3 separate regions of the Homo sapiens genome follow, and regions 1 and 2 are each linked to region 3. The links come from fine-mapping of genetic effects on gene expression. A gene starts in region 3. Each other region holds a variant in brackets. All regions are shown on one strand. Distances are from middle to middle.

Region 1 (4,349 bases), 370 kb before region 3:
TTTTCAAGTATCACATTTTGAATGTGTTGAGTCTCTGTTCCCAATAAAGGGATGGCCAACCTTGGTGTGATCATCTGTAAGCCTCGATCCTTGCAGTCTGCAGCCGTTTCAGAGCTCTCTGTTCACACCAGCATCTCCCCCTCCATCTGTAACCAGTGGACTCCCTCAGGGCTCCTGTGTGCTGCTCTCTAGGTTCCTTAAGTGGGACCCTTGGGGGAAGGCACTGAGGACACACTGAGGGTGCCCTGACCTCTGTGTGGCCCCTGGATATGCCTCAGAGGCTCACAGGCTGTTTGTATATATGAGGGAAAAACTATTTAAATAATTGACTTATATGTTAATTTTTTTTTTTTTGAGATGAAGTCTCACTCTGTCATCCAGGTTGGAGTGCAGTGACGCAAGCTTGGCTCACTGCAACCTCCACCTCCCAGGTTCAAGAGATTCTCCTGTCACAGCCTCCTGAGTAGCTGGGATTACAGGCACATGCTGCCATGCCCAGATAATTTTTTATATTTTAGTAGAGATGGGGTTTCACCATGTTGCCCAGACTGGTCTTGAACTCCTGAGCTCAGGCAACCCACCCACCTCGGCCTCCCAAAGTGCTGAGATTACAGGTGTGAGCCACTGTGCCTGGCCAATAAATATTAATTTTTAAGAAAAGAATAGCCACAGATGGCATTGACACCTTCCATGAAACAAAGCACCCCCTCCCTACCCTCTTCGACCCTGAAGGTTCCTGAGTCCTGGGTCTGAGACGCTATCTTATCCCAAGCAGGCTTTGACTTGGGGTACCACTTCCTGAGCCTCTTCTCTTGGAGATGCCACTCTCTTGGGCCAAGTCTTTGTGGAAGCCTCGCCATCCACCCTCCCAACCCTTCACTGGCTGCAACTATTCCCTGGGGATGGTTCCTCCTTTCTCAATTTCCCCCTCTGTAAAGTGGGGAAGAGGAAATGGGAAGGGTTAAATAGGTATTCCTGGAAAGGACCTAGAACAGCCCTTGAGCACAGGAAGCACCTGCAAATATATGAGCATGAAGGTGGGGTGCAGACCTAGGCAGCACCTGTATGCACCCAGCCCTTCCCAGTGCAACCTGCTGGCCAGGCCGAGAGCTAACATGTACACATGGGTATGCTCTGCACGGCTCTATATCCACCCAAAGGGAAGAGGAGCTGTGGAGATGGGCAAGGCTGTGCTTGGCTTGTTTGGGACTTTACCAAGAGTTAGCTGCCATTTTGGACTGTAGAGCCTCCTGGGGTATTTGAGGGTATGCTCAGCACACCTGTGTCCCCTCTCTGTGTAACTGGGCACCCCACATATGGGTGCCAGGATCTGATTGCTTCATTGAGTTTTGCAGTATGGCTGTGTGAGAATATTTACAGAAATGCAGATTATTTTATTACATTGGTTTCCTTTGATTTCTCCTGATGTGGGGGTACTAAATGGACTTTATTCCAACACAGGTAACATTATCCATGAATTTCATTTCAGGGTAATGAAGAGTACACTGGACAATGTTTGCTATAAAAGGAGGGGAGTTGGGATTGTTGCACTGGATGATTCCAAAGTTCTTTCCTAGGTTCTATGTTTCCAGGAACTATGCGGCACCTCTGCTTCTCCTGTTAATTGATTTGATTTTTCATAATGTACACATTTGCTCAGTGGCCAGTAGGAACTGACCTGAGCTGGGTGCTGAGAGAATGCCCAGATCTGGGTTTCACAGAGCTCCCCTGCAGGCCATTTTAAGATGTGGCTGCAAGGAGGCTGCTTCCTGCAAAAAGCTGAAGGCCCAAGGCTCAGGTTGTCAGGGAGCAAATGACTAATGTCCTCCCCAGGAGAAAGCAGGTGACCATCATGTGTGGAAGCTACCAAGAAAGAATGCATACATTTTATCTAAAAAGTCCTAAGATAAATTTGCAAAGCCTGGGCCACTGAGGTTGCCCATAGCTGACCAGTCCCACCAGCTCCTGACCTTCCACCTCAAGCCCTTCCCTCTCCCCATGTTGCATGCCTAGCCTGGGAAATGGGAGGATTCCTGAACTTGAAGATGGTCAGTGGCGGCATCAGCAGTAGCCGGGCCACGGCAGTAGCACCTATAAGAGGGGGCTTCCCTTAGAGGGAGAGGCACTCGATGAGAAGTTTAAAGAATGCTTCATGGATTTTTAAGCCTCCAGGAGCTGGACACATGTGGATGAGACATGATGGGGCATGTAAACAGAGGAGGAGGAAGTGGGTGGTGGGAAGAAGGGAGCCTTGTCTCAGCCTGAAATACATTTTTTATCTCATTTCCAGGCTCTCAAAGCATCGTTCCGCAGGCACAAGGATGCGGTGTCTGCTCTTCCTGGGGC[T/C]TGTGATTATTGTATCTATTAGCCTCTGTCACAGGGTGCTGTTTATAGGACGGACAGGGTACCATGGCAGAGGGTGACACCTGTGCTTCACAGTGGGGGCCGGTGGCATCCTGGGGCTCGATATTCTGGAGTCTCCCATCTCCTGCCTCCCACCAGGTCCTGCGACTTTGCGGTCTGGCCAGCTCACTCCAGCAGGCCTGAGTCTGCAGCTCATCCTGGAAGCTGCAGCCTCACTGTGATTTCCACGTCCCTCTCTGCTGAGATGTCGTGTGACTTGAGAGCACAGCTGGGACTCTGTCCCGTCCCCACAGTGTCCTTTGAGGCACAGAGGGAAGGCTGCAGAGGTGAAGGTCTAAGGGGGCACAAGGGTGCAGGTGACAAAGAGCGTGGCCATGGCACCTGCCCTGCAGTGGGTCGTGGGGACCTTATGGGTGAATGTGCAGCCTGGCCACAGGATGGTCTTAGAGGCAGGGACCTGCATCGCCCCAGGAGGATCCCAGTGGGCTGCTTTGACTGTGAGGGAGCCAAAGACCCACACCACAGTGGCTCTGAGAGGTGCACTGGGACCAGATCCCAGTTTTTAGAAACCAGGTCATCAGAAGTGAAACCACCCACAACTCTGCAAGGCCCTCCTGAAAGGTCCCAAGCCACAGCGCCCTCCATGGGCATCCTTTGAAGGGAGGATGCTTTCATATGTGCCTTGAAAACACCAAGCAGCAGTATCTGGAAGGCCTGGAAGAGTACTCGGTGCCTTTTGCGAGGAGGGGGTCGGGTATCTGAACCCCATGCTCGGAACTGGGAGACGCTGGCCTTGGGACCATCACCTTCTGACCACAGAATCTCCCTGGGGACTGGACAGAGGGCCCCGCCCCTGGCCGATCCCAGGTCCTGAAAAGGCCCTTCTGGTCTCCCAAGAGGCGGGGTCAGCCCTACGAAGAGCTAAATCCCCGGGAAGGAGGTGCAGGCATTCCGCATTCCGGATTGAAAGTGGGGAGACAATGGAAAGACCGGAGCACCTCCGAGGCCTTACTGATTAAATCTTTCCTTCTGTGGCCAGTGCCACATCTGCAAATAATAAAGAACCATGATGTGACATTCTTGTCACGGCCGGCTGTAGCCTCCAGTCGTCTCTCTTCCTGTGACTTGGGTTCTGCGGCTGCACCACGCATGTCAGCTCCTGGGAGCTCTGCATCTGCTCTTGGGAAGGGGTCTCAAATGCCCTGTGCATTTCTCACCTTCAGCTTCTGCTCCACAGCCCCAGCCTCATTCCCGACTCAACTGCCAGGCCAGGAAGTGACACGCTGGTGCCGCCTCTGGCGGAGGGCTGGGGGAGGCTGGGTTCTGTTCATTTGTCTGTGTCCTTTCCTTCCCAGCTGTCTACAGGAAGGAGTAGCATTTGGGAGTCCTAGGGGTGCAATCTTGTTGCTATATTTACTTCCTGAGCTGCACACTCAGTGGAAAAGGTCAGAAGCAGACACCCCTGAGCTTCCTTCCCCCTGTTGGCCCTGGACAGGGCACTTCCCATTCTCTGGGACCATACCTAATGGCAGGGACTCTGAAATAGTTGGTCTTGCCTGTCCGTCTGTCCCCTGGGGGAGTGAGTCTCTGCCTATACTACAAACAAGAATGACAACAGGAAGGGGTTTCCTCTCCACTCAGCTGGTCACACATCCATCAGTAGCTAACATGAGAAAACAGCAATTGTTCCAAACAAAATCCCCCTATTTCCCCAGTAAAGACATTGACTGGTGCCCTGGAATTGTGCAGTGCACAGCCTGTGGGCTGGCCCAACATCAGCAGCACTGAAATGGCTGCTTAGAGGAAACTCAGCTGCAATGCTTTGAAAGGAAATGTTGACCTTTTGAGTTAAAAGCTTACCCTGGAGCAGGGGTGAGCAAACTCTTCCCATAAATAGCTAATTAGTAAGTAAATATTTTAGGCGCTGCAGGCCTTGGTGTCTGTGGCTGCTCCTCTCTCTACCACTGTAGTGCAAAAACGGCCAC
Region 2 (4,349 bases), 480 kb before region 3:
AAACATTTTTACTATTATTACATCTATTATGGTGATCTGTGATCAGTGATCTTTGATGTTACTCTTGTAATTGGAGTGCCATGAACCACTTCCATATAAGATGGCAAATTTAATTGATAAATGTGTGTGTTCTCACTGCTCCACCAACCTGCCTTTCCCTGTCTTTCTCCCTCTCCTCAGGCCTCCCTATTCCCTAAGACACAATATCGAAATTAGGCCAATTAATAACCTTACAATTGCCTCTAAGTGTTCAAGTGAAGGGAAGAGTCACAGGTCTCTCACTTTAAATCAAAAGCTAGAAATAGTTAAGCTAGTGAGGAAGCCATGTGAGGAAGTCTCAAAAGGTGAGGTAGGCTGTGCCAAGTAGTTAGCCACATTGTGAATGCAAAGGAAATGTTCTCGAAGGAACTTAAAAGTGTTAACTCCAGTGAATGCATGAATGATACGAAAGTGAAATGGGCTTATTGCTGATATGGAGAAAGTTTCAGTGGCTTGGATAGAAGATCAAACCAGCCACAACATTCCCTTTAGTCAAAGCCTAATTCAGAGCAAGGTCCCTAACTTTCTTTCAATTCTACAAAGGCTAAGAGAAGCTACAAAGCTAGAAAAGAAAAGTTGGAAGCTAGCAGAGGTTTATTCATGAGGTTTAAAGAAAGAAAGTATTAGGCTGGGCGCAGTGGCTCATGCCTGTAATCCTAGCATTTTGGGAGACCAAGGCAGGAGGATCACCTGAGGTCAGGAGTTTGAGACCAGCCTAGCTAACACGGTGAAACCCTGTTTCTACTAAAAGTACAAAAAATTAGCTGGGCGTGGTGGCGTGCACCTGTAATCCTAGCTACTTGAAAGGCTGAAGCAGGAGAATCACTTGAATCTGGGAGGCGGAGGTTGCAGTGAGCCGAGATCGTGCCATTGCACTCCACCTTGGGCAACAAGAATGAAACTCCATCTTAAAAAAAAAGAAAAGAAAAAAGAAAGAAGGCATCTCCACAACATAAAAGTGCAAGATGAAGCAGCAAGTGCTGCTATAGAAGCTGCAGCAAGTTATCCAGAAGATCTAGCCAAGATCATTGATGAAGGTGGCTTTACTACACAACAGATTTTCAATGTAAATGAAACTGACTCTATTTGAGGAAGATCCCATCTAGGACTTTCAAAGCTAGAGATAAGTCAATGGCTGGCTTTAAAGGACAGGCTGGCTCTCTTGTTAAAGGCTAACACAGTTGATGACTTTAAGTTAAAGCCAGTGCTAATTTACCATTCGGAAAATCCTGGGACCATTAAAAATACACTAAATCTACTCTGCCTATGCTCTAGAAATGGAAGAACAAAGCCTGGATGACAGCACGTCTATTTACAGCATGGTTTACTGAATATTTTTAAGCCCACTTTGAGATCTACTGCTCAGGAAAAAAGACTCCTTTCCGATGAAACTTGAATGAATGAGGAGTTGCTTCTTATGGATGAGCAAAAACAGTGGTTTCTTGAGATGGAATCTACTCCTTGTGAAGATGCTGTGAACATTGTTGAAATGACAGCAAAGGATTTAGAATATTCCATAAACTTAGTTGATAAAGCAGTGCCAGGGTTTGAGAGGACCGACTCCAATTTTGGAGGAAGTTTTACCGTGGGTAAAATGCTATCAGCATTGCACACTACAGAGAAGTCCATCACTAAAAGACTAGTCAATTGGGTGTGGCAAACTTCATTGTTGTCTTA[T/A]TTGAAGAAATTGCCACAGCCACCCAAACCTCAGCAACCACCACCCTGATCAGTCTGCAACCATCAACATTGAATCAAGACCTTCCAGCAGGAAAAAGACCAAAACTTGCTGAAGGCTTAGATGATTGTTAGCATTTGTTAGCAAAAAAAGTATTTTTAAATTAAGGTATGTACATTATTTTTATAGACAGAATGCTATTGCACACTTAATAGGCTACAGTATAGTTTAAACATAACTTTTATATGCACTGGGAAACCAAAAAATGTGTGTGACTCACTTTATTGTGATATTTGCTTTATTGCAGTGGTCTGGAACCAAACCCACAATATCTTTGAGGTCTGCCTGTACGAGAACTGGGTGGTGGGAAAAGTGGGGCTTGTTTTTCCTTTCTTTGTATTCACTGTAGGTGTGAAATGTTTGACAATTTGACAGTCTGTGACATGGTTCACAGATGTGGTTCCTGCATGTTATCAGGGCTTGGCCAGGTTCAGGCAGGCCTGCAGGCTGTCCCTACAACGGGCAGATTGAAGTGTGCACAGATGTCCGTGACAGGGCTGTGACCAGCCTGTGATCAGGCTGTGACCAGGTTGCTGCCTGGACCAGGCAGAGCTTTGTCCCATAATAGGGGTGCTGCCAGGGAGTCTGGCACCTGGAGCACAGCCACTGGCTTGGACATGAGCCATCAAACAGCATGGAATAAAAATAGAACTGCTTCAGCCGGAGAGGAGACAGGCTGAGCTCCTTGCTGGGAGGCCTTTAAAACAAGAACAGGTTTCATTGATCTGAGACTAGGTAAGGATGCTGCCACGAGTCAGGAAGGAGTCGAAGTCATCTGTCCTGGTACCTGGAAGTGCCTGAACATGATGGGCCTGGGTGGTTATTATTCTTCTCATCAGCTGGCACTGTAACTTTAGGTAAGCATTAGAAACTGTTTGTTTGTTTGATTGTTTGTTTGTTTTCCCTTCATGTCTAGGGTATAGAATGCATGCTCTGTGTACAGTTGGTGACAGTTGTAAAACTGAGAAAGTGCCAGTGAAAATGATTTTAAAAATGAAACAGAAAGGCTGGGTGTGGTGGCTCACGCCTGTAATCCCAGCACTTTGGGAGGCTGAGGAGGGCAGATCACCTGAGGTCAGGAGTTCAAGACCAGCCTGACCAACATGGAGAAACCCTGTCTCTCCATGTAAAAATACAAAATTAGCCGGGTGCGGTGGTGCGTGCCTATAATCCCTCTCAGCTACTCAGGAGGCTGAGGCAGGAGAATCGCTTGAACCCAGGAGGTGGAGGTTGCGGTGAGCCAAGATTTCAGCCTGAGTGACAAGAGCGAAACTCTGTCTCAAAAAAAAAAAAAAAAAGAAAAAGAAAACCAGTAAAATATGTTTATTTTATGGAGTATTGAGTCATGATGTTCAAGGACTTTGGAAGTAATTTGATTGTTGGTTTTATTTTTAAAATTCAGGAATTCTAATCATACATACGAACAAGGTTAAAAAATCCCAAAAAAAAAAAAAAAAAAAAACTAATGATAAGAATGTCTCTTTACCCATTCCCCCCACACACACCAGTTCTACCACCTTGGGATTAAACTTTTTTTTTTTTTTTAGGGGACTAAACTTTTTATCGCTTCTGTTTTTAATTTGTTTTTGTCGTTATTCCCTTCAGTGTTAATAAAATACTTGTCCTCCTACTTTGTGATTTATGAGTATTTGACAAAATACACTGGCTTCCTAATATGAAAGATGAATACCGTTGACCATTGAACAACATGGGTTTGAACTGCGTGGGTCCACTTCCATGTAAATTTTCTCTTGCCTCTGCCACCCCTGAGACAGCAAGATCAGCTTCTCCTCTTTCTTCTCCTCCTCAGCCTACTCAACATGAAGACAATGAGAATGAACGAACACCTTTATAATGATCCACTTCTACTTAATGAATACTAAATATATTCTTTCTTATAATTATTTTCTTAATAACATTTTCTTTTCTCTAGCTTACCATATTGTAAGAATGCAGAATATATCTCACATACAAAAGATGTGTTAATTATCTGTTCATGTGATCAGCAAGGCTTCTTCTCGTCAACAGGCTATCAGTAGTTAAATTTTTGAGGAGTCAAAAGTTTTATGTGGATTCTTGACTCAATGGGGGAGGGGATCAACGGTCCCAACCCCTATGTTGTTCAAGCATCAACTGTAATTACCTCCAGTCCCCTCTACCCTCTGCACCTTCTCCCTCCTCCCCCTGTGTTTACATTAGAGGAGTGTTTTAACTCTTCTGCAGATTCTCTCTGAAACTTTACATTAGCTCTTACTCCCCTATATTTACTACCATACCTTTGGTCTGCATCTTGACTCCCCTTCATGGAAGGTGGGAGTAGGATGGCCTCTGCTATCCACTCTCTCTAGGTCCCACAACACCATCCTCCTCAGCCTTTACTTTTGCAGCTTAGTCTATAGTAAAAGTGGAGCCCAGTGGATTCGAACTGCAACAGTGGGAGCCTCTACACCCCTAGGCAGTTGGGCATGTCACTGTTACATGTTACTCACTGCACAGCTAACCGCTGGGCCAGGGGCACATTTCTTTCTCTATGGGCCTAAAGTCATCAACACCACCACCACCGTCTCCAACCACA
Region 3 (4,000 bases):
TTCCCATAAGAATTGGTACTAATGGCACACTCACAATAAAATAATGGAGTGTTGATCCCATTTAGTGGGGAATGTTTATCCAGAACTGAGTGTGCCGTGCAGATCTACCTCTGTTCTCGTGAACCCTCTTTGGGTCTTGAAGAGGCCTTTGAAGCTGGTGGGACACACGGCTGCTGGGAGGACCCTAGTGAACCTGCCTCCCCGCCTTCGCCCAGGGCAGGCTTCTCCGGGCACACCCTGGAGGAGGAGGAGGAGGATGGTGAAGGACACCTGCAGATTTTCCTGAAGCAATTAAGACCTGTAAAGATTTAGGCCCCGCTGTCAACCTTTTCCTGGACACATTATCTGCCTCATCATATTTTTAAAAATTGTTCCTCTTACAGCCCACTTCCATTTACAAAGGTATCACCTGGCGGTAACCATGTGCATGTCATACATGACTTTCCCCTGGATCCTTGTGCTGTGGATGAAGCGTTTCCCTGATCGGGGTCTCACAAGTTTCCCTTCAGCTACTCTTAAATCTATACATTCTCAAGCCAATAGACAGAAATAAAAGTCATTTGCACTTGTGTGAGGTAGCTGAGTTTACAGAGCAGAGGCAAATCCATTTTATTACAGAGATTCTCAAAGGGCTGCAATAGCTTCACCGGGAGGGAGGAGGGTACACTTGAGCGGTTGTGTCCAATGAAGGAAAGTTTTAGTTAATGATGACATCACTGACATCTCCCAAATTTAAAGGAGCACTTAAAGCACCGCAGATGCAATTTTTTCCCCTCCAGTGAGGAGATACTAGGGAAGGCCTCTGGGTTCACAGCCAAATTGCCTTAATGGTTTGCCTGCTGTCCAGCGAGACCCAGCAGAGCGAGCGGGACGGCGGTGCGCCGGGCCGCGGGGACCCACGCAGTCACAGCTCCGGTGCCCGGCGAGCGGCCTCGCGCGCGGCTCGGGGCCGGGCCCTGCCCGGCCGTCTGCAAGAGCCGCGGGACCCCCGACGCGCGCGCACGGACCGAGGGGTCGGTCGCCCCACGCCTGGCATCACGTTCCAGTGCGGACAGCCAAAGGGCTGAGCGGAGGCAGCAGCCCCGACCCAGCGGTAGCGCCGCGCCCTGCCCGAGAGAGGCGCGCCACGCCGGGCCGGAGCCGGTGGCCCGGGAGCCCGCGGGGTCCGGAGCGGAGCCCGCAATGCAGACGCGCCGGCGAGCCCAGCCGGGGCCCGCGCCCCCCGCGTCCCCGCGCCCCGGCCCCGCGGTCGCCCGGCCTCAACGCCCACCTGCCTCGCCACGGAGCTCGGGAAGGAGACGGCGCCGGCCCCGCGCCCGGAGAGCGCACCTGCCTGGTCCGCGGGCCCGGCCCCGCCGCCCGCCGGCAGCACCGCGGCCAGCGCCGTCTTACCTGCCGCGCCGCGCCGCTCCGCTCCGCCAGCCCGCAGCGCCGCAGTCGCCGCTACCCGACTTCCATTTTCTCTCGCTTTAAAGGAAAACCAGATCAGCTGTTTTGCTCCCGCTCGGGCTCCGCGGCCCCCTCCCCAGCTGCCGCTCGCGGTCCCGGTGGCCTCTCCTCCCCCGCCTCCTCCCGCGCTCCGCTCCGCCCCTCGCGCCCCTCCGCTCCGCCCGCGGCCGCGCACAACGCCCGCCTCCCGGCTCCGCCTGCTGCCTCCGGGCGCGCGCCCTCCTCTGACGTCACCGGTCGCGTTCGCGCCCCGCCCCCGCCCCGCGCGGACGTGCGCGCGCCGCGCCTGTGCCCCGCCCCCGCCCCTCCGGGGCCGGGCACGGAGAGCGCGTGCTCGCGGCCGCGAGCCGAGGAGGGGACGTACAGCGCCCGCGCGCCCGCGAGCCCGCTCCGGCTCTCCCATGCTTGCCCCTCGGGGTGCTCCTTCTGCGCTCTCCGCCTGGACTGCAGGAAAAGGCTGCTTAAACAGCCTGCCTTTTCCTGCTGCCTGACTCGCGCCATCTGCGGCCACCTGTCTCGTTTCTTCCCCCTGGCTGGCGCACCCTTCCTTCCTAAACATCCCAAACTTTCTCCCACCCAGGCTGTCCAGGCTGCAGTTTCTACGCCCTGCGCTGGGGCCTGTGCATCACGCCTAATCCAAAGCTGGTCCTTTTACCTCCCAAAAAGGTTCTCTGACCTTTTCCCATTTTTTGCCTTCCTCTAAAGACTTTTTCACGCCACCCCTTCAGATGGTTCCCCTCCCTGATGGCAAGACCTGCTCGCTGCTCTGGGCCCTTCTCACGTCACCCTGTAGATGTAGTCACGCTTCCTTATCCCAAACAGGACGTTATATTGCAGATGACCCATACCATCCTGGTGTACTTCTAAACAATCATTATTTTACTTTTAGTTTAGGACTTTTTGCTTGACTTTAAACATTGTATATGTTTAATAGTGTTTAATAATTTATTTGACTTTTAAAATTGATATTCAGTAAAATTGGTTATTTGATATATAATCCTGTGATCTTGAACCCTTGTTTGGATTCATGTAACCACTAGCGCAATAAAGAGCTCCCTAGTTCTGCCCTTTTATAACAGCGCCCCCGCCAACCCTAACTTTTGGTAACCACTGATAGGTTCTCCATTGCTACGGTTTTGTCTTTGTGAGTGTGTCGTATACATGGAATTACGCAATATGTAACATTTTGAAACTGACTTTATTCCCTCATCATTATACCTTGGAGATTCATCCATGTTATTGTGTATAGTAATAGTCCTTTTTATTGTTGAGGGGAGTCTCATTATTTGTACCACATTTTGTTTAGTCACCCACTGGAGAATATTTGCGTGGTTTCCAGTTTTTGGCGACTGTGAATAAACATTCTATAAACATTTGCATGCAGCGTTTTGTACGGACAAATTTTTTAAATTAGTTGACTAAATATCTAGGAGTGCAATTGCTAGATCTTATGGTAAATTTGTTTAACTTTATAAGAACCAAACAGTTTTCTAGAGTGGCTATAGCATTTTTATAACTGTCAGCAAATATGAATCCCTTTCCTTCATCCTCACCAGCACTTGATATTGGCTATCTTTATCTATCTATCTGTCCATCCATCCATCCATCCGTCTATCATCTATAATTTTAGACATTCTAGTAGGCATATAGTGCTATATCGTTGTTAATTTTCAATTTTCTACTGAAAAATTATGTGGAGCAACTTTTCATATGCACCTGTATATCTTCTTTGGTGAGATGTTTGTTCACATCTTTTGCCCATTAAAAAAAAAAGGTTGTTTTCTTATGGTTGAGTTTTAAGAGTTCTTTGTGTATTTTGGATAGAAGTACTTTATCTGATACGTGTTTTGCAGGTATTTTCTTCCAGTGGAAGCTTGTCTTTTCATTCTCTTAACAGTCCTGTCCTGAATTTAGGGGAAGTATCCAGTTTCTTACCACTAAATATGATGTTAGCAGTAGGATTTTTTTAGTTCTTCTTTATCAAGATTAGGAAGTTCTCTCTATTCCTAGTTTGCAGAGTTTTTATCATGAATGAATGTTGGATTTTGCCAAATTCGTTTTCTGCATCTATTGATACGGTCATGTGATTTTATTTTCTTTAGCTTGTTGATATGATGGGTTACATTGATTTTCAATTGATTTTCAAGGAACCGGTCTTGCATACTTGGGTCAAATTCTACTTGGGCATGGTATATAATTGTTTTTATACACCATTGTATTCAATATGCTAATATTTTGTTGAAGACTTTTGCATCTATGTTCATGAGAAATATTTGGCTATAGTTTTCTTTTTTGTAATGTCTTTAATTTATTTTGGTATGCCGGTAATGCTGGCCTCATAAAATGAGTTAAGAAGTAATATTTACTTGTATTTTCTGTAAGAAATTGTAAAGAACCTATATCAATTCTTCCATAAATGTTTGGTAAAATTCCCTGGTGAAACCATCTGAATCTGGTGATTTTTTTGAGACTTCATTAATTATTGATTCTTTGTGGATACAGAGCTATTAGGTGATCTGTTTGCTTTTCTGTAAAATGTAGTTGTATCATT

Direction of the effects. Alleles are on the strand shown, and positions count from the first base shown. SD is a standard deviation of normalised expression in the study named. Not every link is listed here.
In carriers of allele T in region 1, the expression in lung of the gene that starts at base 1,559 in region 3 tends to be higher than with C alone (small effect, 0.20 SD a copy in GTEx).

What was found. PIP is the estimated chance that this variant, and not a neighbour inherited with it, causes the effect. A credible set is the group of variants that fine-mapping cannot tell apart.
Region 1: its variant is the best candidate, but not a certain one, in a credible set for the expression of OTUD7A in lung (GTEx, PIP 0.65).
Region 2: its variant is the best candidate, but not a certain one, in a credible set for the expression of OTUD7A in whole blood (TOPMed, PIP 0.56).

The regions. Positions count from the first base shown.
Region 1 is chr15:31,496,914-31,501,262 of GRCh38, forward strand. The region is part of intron 10 of OTUD7A (OTU deubiquitinase 7A); the gene reads right to left. Among named protein-coding and RNA genes, the nearest start is that of KLF13, 170 kb to the left of the region's middle. The variant T/C (reference allele first, on the strand shown) is at 2,347.
Region 2 is chr15:31,385,551-31,389,899 of GRCh38, forward strand. It overlaps a transcript of KLF13 not described here. Among named protein-coding and RNA genes, the nearest start is that of KLF13, 61 kb to the left of the region's middle. The variant T/A (reference allele first, on the strand shown) is at 1,717.
Region 3 is chr15:31,869,115-31,873,114 of GRCh38, forward strand. OTUD7A (OTU deubiquitinase 7A) reads right to left here and starts at 1,559. Exons shown (of 13, transcript NM_001382637.1): 1 at 1,393-1,559. RefSeq lists a silencer at 1,522-1,591.